Linked DNA regions of Homo sapiens. The protein of the gene in region 2 interacts with the protein of the main gene of each other region in a pairwise test. Each region holds a gene or a part of one and is shown on either strand. Other genes may lie near its edges. The genes, in order: MAP2K4, STX17 and TLR2.

What was found.
Region 1: the proteins of STX17 (region 2) and MAP2K4 interact in a two-hybrid assay, tested with the Homo sapiens proteins (one large-scale study listed by BioGRID and IntAct).
Region 3: the proteins of STX17 (region 2) and TLR2 interact in a two-hybrid assay, tested with the Homo sapiens proteins (one large-scale study listed by BioGRID and IntAct).

What each region holds. Positions count from the first base shown.
Region 1 is NC_000017.11:12,027,232-12,030,892, reverse strand, and holds part of MAP2K4 (dual specificity mitogen-activated protein kinase kinase 4), read right to left. Parts: intron 1-3,661. UniProt on the Homo sapiens protein: Dual specificity protein kinase which acts as an essential component of the MAP kinase signal transduction pathway. Essential component of the stress-activated protein kinase/c-Jun N-terminal kinase (SAP/JNK) signaling pathway.
Region 2 is NC_000009.12:99,962,088-99,965,748, forward strand, and holds part of STX17 (syntaxin-17), read left to right. Parts: intron 1-3,661. UniProt on the Homo sapiens protein: SNAREs, soluble N-ethylmaleimide-sensitive factor-attachment protein receptors, are essential proteins for fusion of cellular membranes.
Region 3 is NC_000004.12:153,703,911-153,706,812, reverse strand, and holds the end of TLR2 (toll-like receptor 2 precursor), read right to left. Parts: coding exon 1,551-2,902; 3' UTR 553-1,550; downstream 1-552. UniProt on the Homo sapiens protein: Cooperates with LY96 to mediate the innate immune response to bacterial lipoproteins and other microbial cell wall components. Cooperates with TLR1 or TLR6 to mediate the innate immune response to bacterial lipoproteins or lipopeptides.

The DNA.
Region 1 (3,661 bases), on a different chromosome or scaffold from region 2:
ACTGGAAAAGGGAAGGTAAAACTCACCTTCTACTACAACTGGAGAGGAGGCTGGGAAACAAACAACTTTAAAGCAAAATACCCTGATTGACTGTTACTAGGTAGCAAAAAGAAAGAGGTGAAAAGGAGAGAGAAGAGGTGAACAAAATAGTAATATGGATGGCGAAAGGAGCAAGAAAACAAATTTGTAAGGTATATGAAAAAGAAATCAGTTGGATCTATATGTAAGGTTGTGTTAAAAAAAGTTACATTGCTTAATAAGTGTATAATATATTAAAAATTTTAAGGTATATGTGACTGAGAATGACAGAATGTCGCCAATGATTGCTCTAACACATTAAAAGCTAAGCGCCAGTTTAAGTGTTAAAAAATTCTCAAAACCTGAAATTCTGTCACCAGTACAGAATCTATATAAGTAGCTACAAAGGAGGTGGGAAGGGGATTAAAATGTTCAAAGCATAAGTATAGACTTGTTCTTTGTATCTAATTATGAAGTGACCAGGTGAACGAATTCTGGGGTCTCATCCAAACATCCATCTCTCCACATTATTTCTCACTAAGAAAATACTTGGTAACTCGCCCAGAGTCCACTGACAAGCAAGGTCTAAATTAACTGGAACACACTGGCTCACCTTTTCTTTAGCAATTCTGTAACTTTCTTAACATTATTAAATTAGGGAAGAAGCGTTTTTAGTTAGTCTGTCTAAATCTTTAAGACCTGCAAAAGTCAGAAAGTTAGTGCTTATAGTGCAGATTTGGGAAAGTACCAAATAGCTCCACTAGCTCATACTCAAAGGGTAAGGATGGGCAAAGGGGACAAGCAACAGTCTTGCACAAGAGAAAGATGGTGGGAAGGAAAAATGAGGAAAACTTCCAATATCCTCAACTTTACAAAATGCAAGTTCTTAGTTATGATATAATATTCACTAGTATTCACTCACATATGTTCAATTTTTCTTTTTTTCTTTTTTTTTTTTAGAGACAGGGTCTTGCTGTCGCTCATGCTGGAGTGCAGTGGCATGATCATAGCTCACTGCAGCCTCAAACTCCTGGGCTCAAGCAATCCTCTCATCTCAGCAGGTGCAAGCCACTATGTCTGGCTAACTTTTGGAGTTTTTTGTTTTTTGTTTTTGTAGAGATGGAGTCCCAACATGTTGCCCAGGCTAGTCTCAAACAATCCTCCTGCCTCAGCCTCCCAAAGTTATGGGATTATAGGCATGAGCCATCTCACCTGGCCAATATGTTCAATTTTTGAAGTCTCCCTTGTCTCCGAAATTCTGACTTCCTATTCACTTACTTTAAGTCCTATCTCTGGAGGTACTAGATAATCCGTTGAACCTGTTGATAGTTAACTGGTTACATTTTAAGTCGTGTGTGCCTCACTTTTTTATATCTGGGTGAACTATCTGTACCCTGGGGCTTAATTTGACATGATCCTCCATTTATATTTTCCCCATTACAAGTAGGGGTAAATTTGAGTCTTTTTCATTTTTCCTGGCCCCAGGCAAGTTTAATTAAATCTTAGAATAAATATCAAGAATAATATTTATTTAAGAATTTAAATTCTTAATTCTTGACACTGATGAATCAATATCAAAATGCATAGGACAGAATGCTAGTAAGCCTATAAAAGAAATAAAGCTACATGAGGGTTTTTCCTCCTCCTTTTTCTCTCTACGTATCTCCTACCCTCGTTCCCACATTTGCCCCTCATTCTCACCCTCTTACCTCAATTTTAAGATCTTTTATGTGGCCATAACTTGAAACCTACAATTTACTGTTCTTACCAAATACAGTGAGGTAAGCGGCTGTTTAGGATGTGTAAGTGTTTATAAAAACAAAAAGCAAATGGTGTTCGATAAAGTAAAAAACAAAATGAAGTGTGTTAGGAGACCAGAGTTCTAGTTCCAACTGTGAAACTGAAGTCATTTCACTTGAGTCCTAGTTTTGTCATTTTTAAATAAAGAATATTATCTTAAGGGTTTGAAAACAGTGTGCCTAAATCTAATTTTGCTTGTGTAATGGCCATTATGAGGTTTTGTAGTTATCTCCATTCCCATTCCTCTAGGTTGATAATATAAATCAGAGAGGGTGTGGGGCCGGACATAAGTGGTTTCCTATCTCCTCAGTAGTTGCTTCTGATTCCCTGGACATTCTGGATTTTTGCACTGCTGAAAGTGCATTATGAACTACAATATGAACCCACACTAATGTAAAGAAAATCAGAGCTGCCTTACTGGGTCATGCCCATAAGACCGTGCTACAAAGTCTTTCCTCTGTCACAAGCATGAAGGGTCTATTTGTCTGACACCTTCAAACTTCCAACTTCAAAATTCTGGCATGTGCCTTAAACCACAGCTACCCATAGTATATCATTATGGCTCTAACATGTAAGGCGTTATCTAAACCTACCCTAAATTTGTATTTTCATTGTACTCAGAGCAAGTTCCCCAAGATTTATTTCCTGATGGTTTATTTCTTTCAGATTTCCTTATGTCAACTTTCTGAAACTATCAAAAGGGAGCCACCCTAAGTTAGCAATTCCAGGTTGTTAGAATCATCCACCAGTCAGGAGTTGATAAAATACTCATCAAATCCCTTCCACACTTTTTAAATTCAAGTGTCCTCATAATGCCAGCTCTTTTTCTCTCTTTGGGCAATGACCACCTTATTTATTCTTTGGCCACAAAATTAAATGCCACATTACCTTCTCAAGCCTGTTTAATGAAGCACAGTACACTGAGACAGTAACTTACAATTATGTTCCTTCGGGCAAGTATCTAACTTCTATGAGCCTCAATTTCCTCATTTGTGAAAAATAAAATAATACCCAAAAGAGCTTTGTGATGATTAAATGGGAAAATATATCTAAAATGTCCAACCAAAAGCCTGGACTAAAGCAGGTTATTATTATCACAGGCACTATTATTCCTGTTCTCTCCCTCATGGGAGCAACGATTATGGCACCTTCCCTATCTTTCTGGTGCTCACCAGACCAGCTTAACCTACACAAAACCAGTCTTTCTCCTTTCATTCACAGTCACCTTGAGAGAATTAAAAGGGAAGGACTCCAAACAGCCCTGGAGATCCACACCCCACCCTCTACACCTCTGCCACAACCCTTCCTAGGCACAGCCTGGTATCCTGAGGACTCTAACAACCCCAAAAAGATGGATGCTTCCCCATGACAGGCACATAACCAGATCCCAGGGAAACTGCCAAAATCATCAGGGGAGCTCCTTAATGTCACTGATTTCTTCAGCAAAGCCAGGCAATAAATAGACATAGGCATGTCAGATATATATACATCTGACATATATATATCTCAGATATATATGTCTGGTAACACTTTGCTTGATTCCTCTTTTTTTAAATGTTTGAACAATTTGGTGTCTGTGTGTGTGTGTGTATGTTCAGATATATATGTCTGGCAACACTTTTCTTGATTCCTCGTTTTTCAATGTTTGAGCAATTTTGGGTAAAATGAAATACAATATAGCTCGAAAAAGCTGCTGTGATGTCCATTTTAATCCTCTTTCTCCGTGGTGGAGAATAATGTGTTGTTCTTAAAGAACCAAGCTGCATACAATGTAATTGTTTTCTTCATTCAAAAGGCCCACCTTGAGTTGTGTAAACTACTGGCTAATCATCTCCCTTTCACT
Region 2 (3,661 bases):
CCCTTGCTTCTTTTGCATTCCTTCTACAATATAATTTCTAGGCTTCTCAATACTGGCTTCTTACTATGCTTATGTTCCATATTCTGAATATTTTCTTGAAATGTGTTACCTAAAATTGAATGCAGTAAATTGTTTGAATTGCTTCTGGATGCCTCTAAGTTAGAAGAAGCAAAATATTTGAAGTTTCTGGATTAGGTATCTGTACAATATTAATATACTCGCAAACAGAAGGAAATAATAGAACAAGAATCCCAAAATATCTGTTGTTTCAGAATCAACATTTATTCAACTATTGTAAACTAATAATCTCTGAATCCAGTGCAGTTTGTAAAACCTATACATGTATGGTTACACAAATATATACACTTGCCAAAAGTCATTGGTCTGTACACATAAAATGTGTTTTAATATATGTAAATTATACCTCAATAAAGCTGATTTTAAAAAACAAACTACACATGTACAAAGTTCTTACTCAGTACAAACACATTTCTTTTCTACTGGGATAGGCACATAAAAGAAATATTAAAGGTCTGTGACCATAAGATAGTTACATGTTTGATTATATTATGTAAGCAGCTCATAACCTCTAATCTAAGGGAGATTTGTGTAGGAAAACTCTGGCTGTAGCCACAGCTCTATACAAATGTCCTGTTTGTAATAATCTGTTTAAGTACATGAGACAGAATGCTAATAAGCAAAAGCTCAAAGGAGAACCCCTGATTATTATTCCCAGGGTGACTAAGTTCTCATGACCACATGGCCAAGGATTCACAGAAGCTCTATTTAGGCACAGAATGACCTAGGAACATAACCAGAGTGACCACATCCTCTCATTATCATCACATGGACATGATAGTGTCTAGACAAATTAACCATGTATTTAAGGAACACTTTCTATCTGCGTAGCACTGTGCTAAGCTTAATGAGGAATAGAAAAAAGCATTTAAAAAACTTACAAGATAGTAATAGTGGTTGCACAATATTGTGAAGTTACTTATTGCCACTAAATTGTACACTTCAAAATGGTTAAAATGGTAAATTTATGTTATATTTATTTTACCACTATAAAAAGAACTTACAAAGCCATTGACAGATCAAGGTATAGTACAATAAATGTTAATAAATTAATATCTACTAGGTACCCTGCTCTATTTTTCTTCAGCCTTTGTTGTTCAAGTGCCCTCTTCTCTCCCTATAACTTTGTAACTAGCCCTATTTCTAGTCAAGGAGAATTTAAAGAACCCTGGGCCAGTAGTTCAGTAACAACTCACCCTTGCTGCTAGTCTGTTTTGACTTCTGCCTTTTGCCTTATTCCCTGTCGTTTTTGTAATCCAGTTTTACTCTGGAAACATAAAAACTGGTTGCAATGGATTAGATCAGATTCCTTCATTTATTACCTATGTGACCTTCAGGATGTTATTTGACAACAATGAGCTTTATAACACTGATGGGAGGACTAAATGAGGTAATGTGTATTATTAAGTACTTCCCATTCTGTTCCCTTCCACTGACCCCAACTGCATTCCCACTTTTGTCCTTCCTTTATTTTCATTCCTTGTTTGGCTCCTTGCAAAAATTCTACTTTTTCCACCACTATTATCCTTAGGCATTTTAGTACTGGAATTCCTTCAGTCCCTTTCCAACTGCTGAATCCTCTGTTAGCAACATCCTACTTATCTACTCTGCTTATTGCTTACTCGAAGCCAATATAATCACTTATTTTGCCTATATATCATAGTATTTATAAGTTTGTTTCTGGGCCTTTTTGTGTATATGATTGCATATGATTAAGGAGTATATAGAATATATCATAGGAGTTTAGAACCAGAATAGCTCAATGTGAACAGGATTGGTCAAGATCTAAGATTAGAACTTGGCCTTGAAGGCTGGCTGGAATTTAGAGAGGAATAAATGGACGTACCTGGAGTTTTGGTATTACCCTCTTAAATAAACTCGTAGCTTTCCAAGAACCTTAAACTTTACAACTACTATCAGAACTCTCTATGGAAGACCACTGTTAATGATATAAATGGATTTGGGGGTTAATTTTTGAATGTATTATTATTGCTTGACATAGAGGATGCTAGGCCTACAAGTGTCCCCAACAGGCATTCAAGAACAAAACAGTTCATTGGTTTTGAATTTATATTCCCAAATTGCATTCTGCTTGACAAGTATAATAAATCACAGTTTATACAGAAACTTAGGTACTCCTATAGCTGTTCGTCAAGATTTGTTATGTTCAGGCCAATAGGGGGACTTAATTCAATGTTCTTTAAAATGAAATCCGTAGACATATTCTTAGAGTCATTTGAGAATTTTCTTTTTCTGTAAAAGGAGGTCAGTATATTACTCTAGCTTGAGAAACACTGCAGTGTAATGAGCTAAACACTTAAATATGGTTTAGCTCATTGTTAAAGGAATGCTGAGAACATATATGGGGTGCCAAACTATAAAATGGCAGGTATGGAATTTGAAGATTGTCAAATGTGGGAGGCCTAAGCAGATGAAAATAAACATGAGCAAATCAGAAGCAAAACCTCAGGGGAGATTGATAGATAGAGGTTAGGAGGCTCCTGCACCACCATTAATGTTTAGAGCTTGATTTCACAGGCTGGGGCAGGGTTGTATATGTATCTTTTGGTCCCACAAAAAGAGCCAAGGACATAGTGGACAGGTAGTGACCCAATTCAGCTCTGTATGGAGTCTGGTTTGGCATTCTGCTGATGGTAATTGACAACTCTGTGACAATAGTTTGCTGCCTAACTGTAACCTTTGTGGGGGTCAGTGAGTCCTCCTTACTCAAGAAGCAGAATTTGAAGATATGGGCAAAGTTTGAAGTTGCAAACCAAGCAAAATACGGACAAGAGAAAGGCAGACGTGCACAATCGAGGGGTGATTATTGATCCCAGGATAGGGGCTGTCTGCCCTCTGCCTTATTCCCACACCCCAGCCCCATATCTTAGCATGCTTTCTGATGGCATGAATAAATACTTATAGATGTGGGCTACTCCCCAGGGTGGGATGGGCCTCATCAAATGCTGGTGATTGCAATGATGGGGAACTTTGTAGTTCAAATAATTAGTGATCTCAGGATTGGTTTTTTGCCTGTGGTTGCTTCTTCAGTTATTCCAAATGATTTTTATGAAAAAATATTTAAATTATTTTAAAATTTTGCTTTAATTTTTAAAAAGTCATAGAAGTACAATATCCAACCCTTTTTAAAGGAAGGAACATTAGAAAGTATTTCCCTGAGGCTTTACGATTACACTTGGGGTATAGAAATGGCAATAATCCTGGCAGGCTCCTCCCTCTTGCTGGAATTATTTTGGGGCTGAAGGAAGGGAGACACTGACTATTTTTCCTCTACCTTTCAACTCATCAACATATGACGGCTGATGGTAGAGTTTTAAGCCTGTGATTTATCTGCTAGCATAGACTGTTTCAGGCAAGAGTGGAAAGTGTTGGGGGTGTCCTAAATAGAAACAATGATAGGGTGTCAGAAATCTAGACAAGTTGTATATTATTAGTGCTGGAACTTTTTCTTCTATGGGTCAGAAAAAGAAAGCTGACTTAAATAAGTTTTGCTATTGAGGAAAATAAAAATTGAATGATTGAATGAATGCTAAAAGATACCTGAAGTTTTAGTGTCCTAGAA
Region 3 (2,902 bases), on a different chromosome or scaffold from region 2:
GGGTCATGTCAACTGACTTGCCAAAGATTACACATCTACTAACCCAGGTCTTTCTGACTCTAGTGCCCAATTAACCACATACACCCAGTTCTGGTTGAGAATTGAGCAGGGGTCAAAGGCTCACTTCCTTTCACATGGTTCCCAGCTTAAGAAAGTTACATAGAATCAGCAAATAGTGCTTACCAAAGAAAGTTGCATCAAAATTTAATGTGTGGTATTATTATACCTAGATTGCAAAATTAACATATGGTAGTAGTATCTACCTTTAAATTACTGTGTATCAAACTATTTTTGAGTCATTATGAGGAAACTCTAGGTATATATTTGCTTAAAAATCTATTTAGCTCACATGTACTTTTTAAAATATTCAGAAGGGGAAAAAGGGCAGGCTTTTTTAGAATTAAAAACAAGACTTTTCGAAGAAGGAAAAAGCAACAAGATGCAGGAGATATAGGCTAAAAAACAGGAACTGAGAGTCAGAGTGATTGGACAATAACTAGAACTCAAAAGGTAGTTAGAGGCTGAGGAAGACCAGAGTCCGGATGTGGGAAGTGTCTTTCAAATTCTCCTAAACTGAGTATTTATTTTGTTAAATTACAGAAATACATAATTTACTGTACCTTGCACTGTGTACTCACTCTCTCAAGTAACTATGGCTGGAGAAACCTATCTAATAGCCAGAAAGACAGATCCAGATCACATGAAAATACACCCTCTAGTATTTCTCATCCTGTAAAGTTTAATAGGAAATACACAGCACTTTTTTCTAGGAATAGCAACAAGTTTTGGGGAGTGCCCCAAATACTTTGCCTTGTTGCTCTTGAGATCAGCTGCACAGAGAAGTGACAGCTAGGTAGGACAGAGAATGCCTTTTGTGGCCACAGAGGAGTCTCTTAGCAGGAAGAAAGAATGACACAGTCATTGAGAATCTTAAGTTCATTTGTGCTGTTTCCTAATGAACTAAGCCAGTTGCTACAGATTACAGTTGGCCCTCTATATCCATGGGTTCTGCATCCATGAAGTCAACCAACTGTGGATCAAAAGTATGTTTTAAAAATTTTGAAAATAAAAAATAACAATAATAATATAAATAAAAAGACAGTACAACTATTTACATAGTATTTACATTGTATTGGGTATCATAAGTAATCTAGAGATGATTTAAAGTATACAGGAGAATGTACACAGGTTATATGCAAATACTATGCCACTCTTATAAGGGACTTGATCATCTATGAATTTTGATATCCACGAGGATCCTGCAACCAATTCCCTTGGATACCAAGGGACTATATTCAGATATCAGTAATAGACTTATGATCATGGTTATCTCATAGAAAAAAGAAAAACCAAAAACCAATTTTTAAATCTGGCATATGTTTATAAAACAGCACCCCAGACAAAATTTGAAGTTTTGTAGTTTTAGTAAGCAAGTCCTCAAATGACGGTACATCCACGTAGTTTTTATATAATTATGTCTGAATGAACTTAACTATAACTAGTGACATAAAGATCCCAACTAGACAAAGACTGGTCTTAAATATGGGAACCTAGGACTTTATCGCAGCTCTCAGATTTACCCAAAATCCTTCCCGCTGAGCCTCGTCCATGGGCCACTCCAGGTAGGTCTTGGTGTTCATTATCTTCCGCAGCTTGCAGAAGCGCTGGGGAATGGCTTTTTTCTCAATGGGCTCCAGAAGAATGAGAATGGCAGCATCATTGTTCTCATCAAAAAGACGGAAATGGGAGAAGTCCAGTTCATACTTGCACCACTCACTCTTCACAAAGTTTTCAGAAAGCACAAAGACAGTTTTGTGGCTCTTTTCAATGGAGTCAATGATATTGTCAATGATCCACTTGCCAGGAATGAAGTCCCGCTTATGAAGACACAACTTGAAGGGGGGATTGAAGTTCTCCAGCTCCTGGACCATAAGGTTCTCCACCCAGTAGGCATCCCGCTCACTGTAAGAAACAAATGCATCATAGCAGATGTTCCTGCTGGGAGCTTTCCTGGGCTTCCTTTTGGCCTGGAGCCAGGCCCACATCATTTTCATATACCACAGGCCATGGAAACGGTGGCACAGGACCCCCGTGAGCAGGATCAGCAGGAACAGAGCACAGCACATGCCAGACACCAGTGCTGTCCTGTGACATTCCGACACCGAGAGGCGGACATCCTGAACCTGCTGGCCACGCACATGGGATGGAGAGTCACACAGGTAATTTGCTGGCCAATCAATCAAGACTTTGGCCAGTGCTTGCTGCTCCTGAGTGAAGGAGAGGAATTCACAGGAGCAAATGAAGTTATTGCCACCAGCTTCCAAAGTCTTCAGTGTGTGAAATGAGTCAAGTTGCTCCTTAGAAAACGTAGTTATTGCATTCCTACTGATTTTCAATACTAGTAACATGGGTAAGAGGGAGGCATCTGGTAGAGTCATCAACTTATTTCTGGAAATATAAAGTTCTTTGAGTTGCGGCAAATTCAAAGAAAATAAATTGAGATTGTTGTTGCTAACATCTAAAATTTCCAGTGTCTTGGGAATGCAGCCTGTTACACTGTGTATTCGTGTGCTGGATAAGTTCAAATATTTCATCTTTTCTGGCCACTGACAAGTTTCAGGCATAGAATGAAAACTATTCTTACTGATATCAATGTTAGTCAAGTTTTTCAGAGTGAGCAAAGTCTCTCCGGTTTTTTCCAATGATGCCAAATGATTTTGCCTTAAAATTAAAGTTTGTAGAGAGGGCCAGGCATCCTCACAGGCTGAATTTTTCAAGTATTCTTCAACCATCAAATTTTCACTGAGATCCAAGTATTCTAATGATTTTAAATGTTGTGAAAGTAAACAAGGAACCAGAAAAACTTTACTGTTTTCTACTGTGATTCTTTTAACTCTTTCTG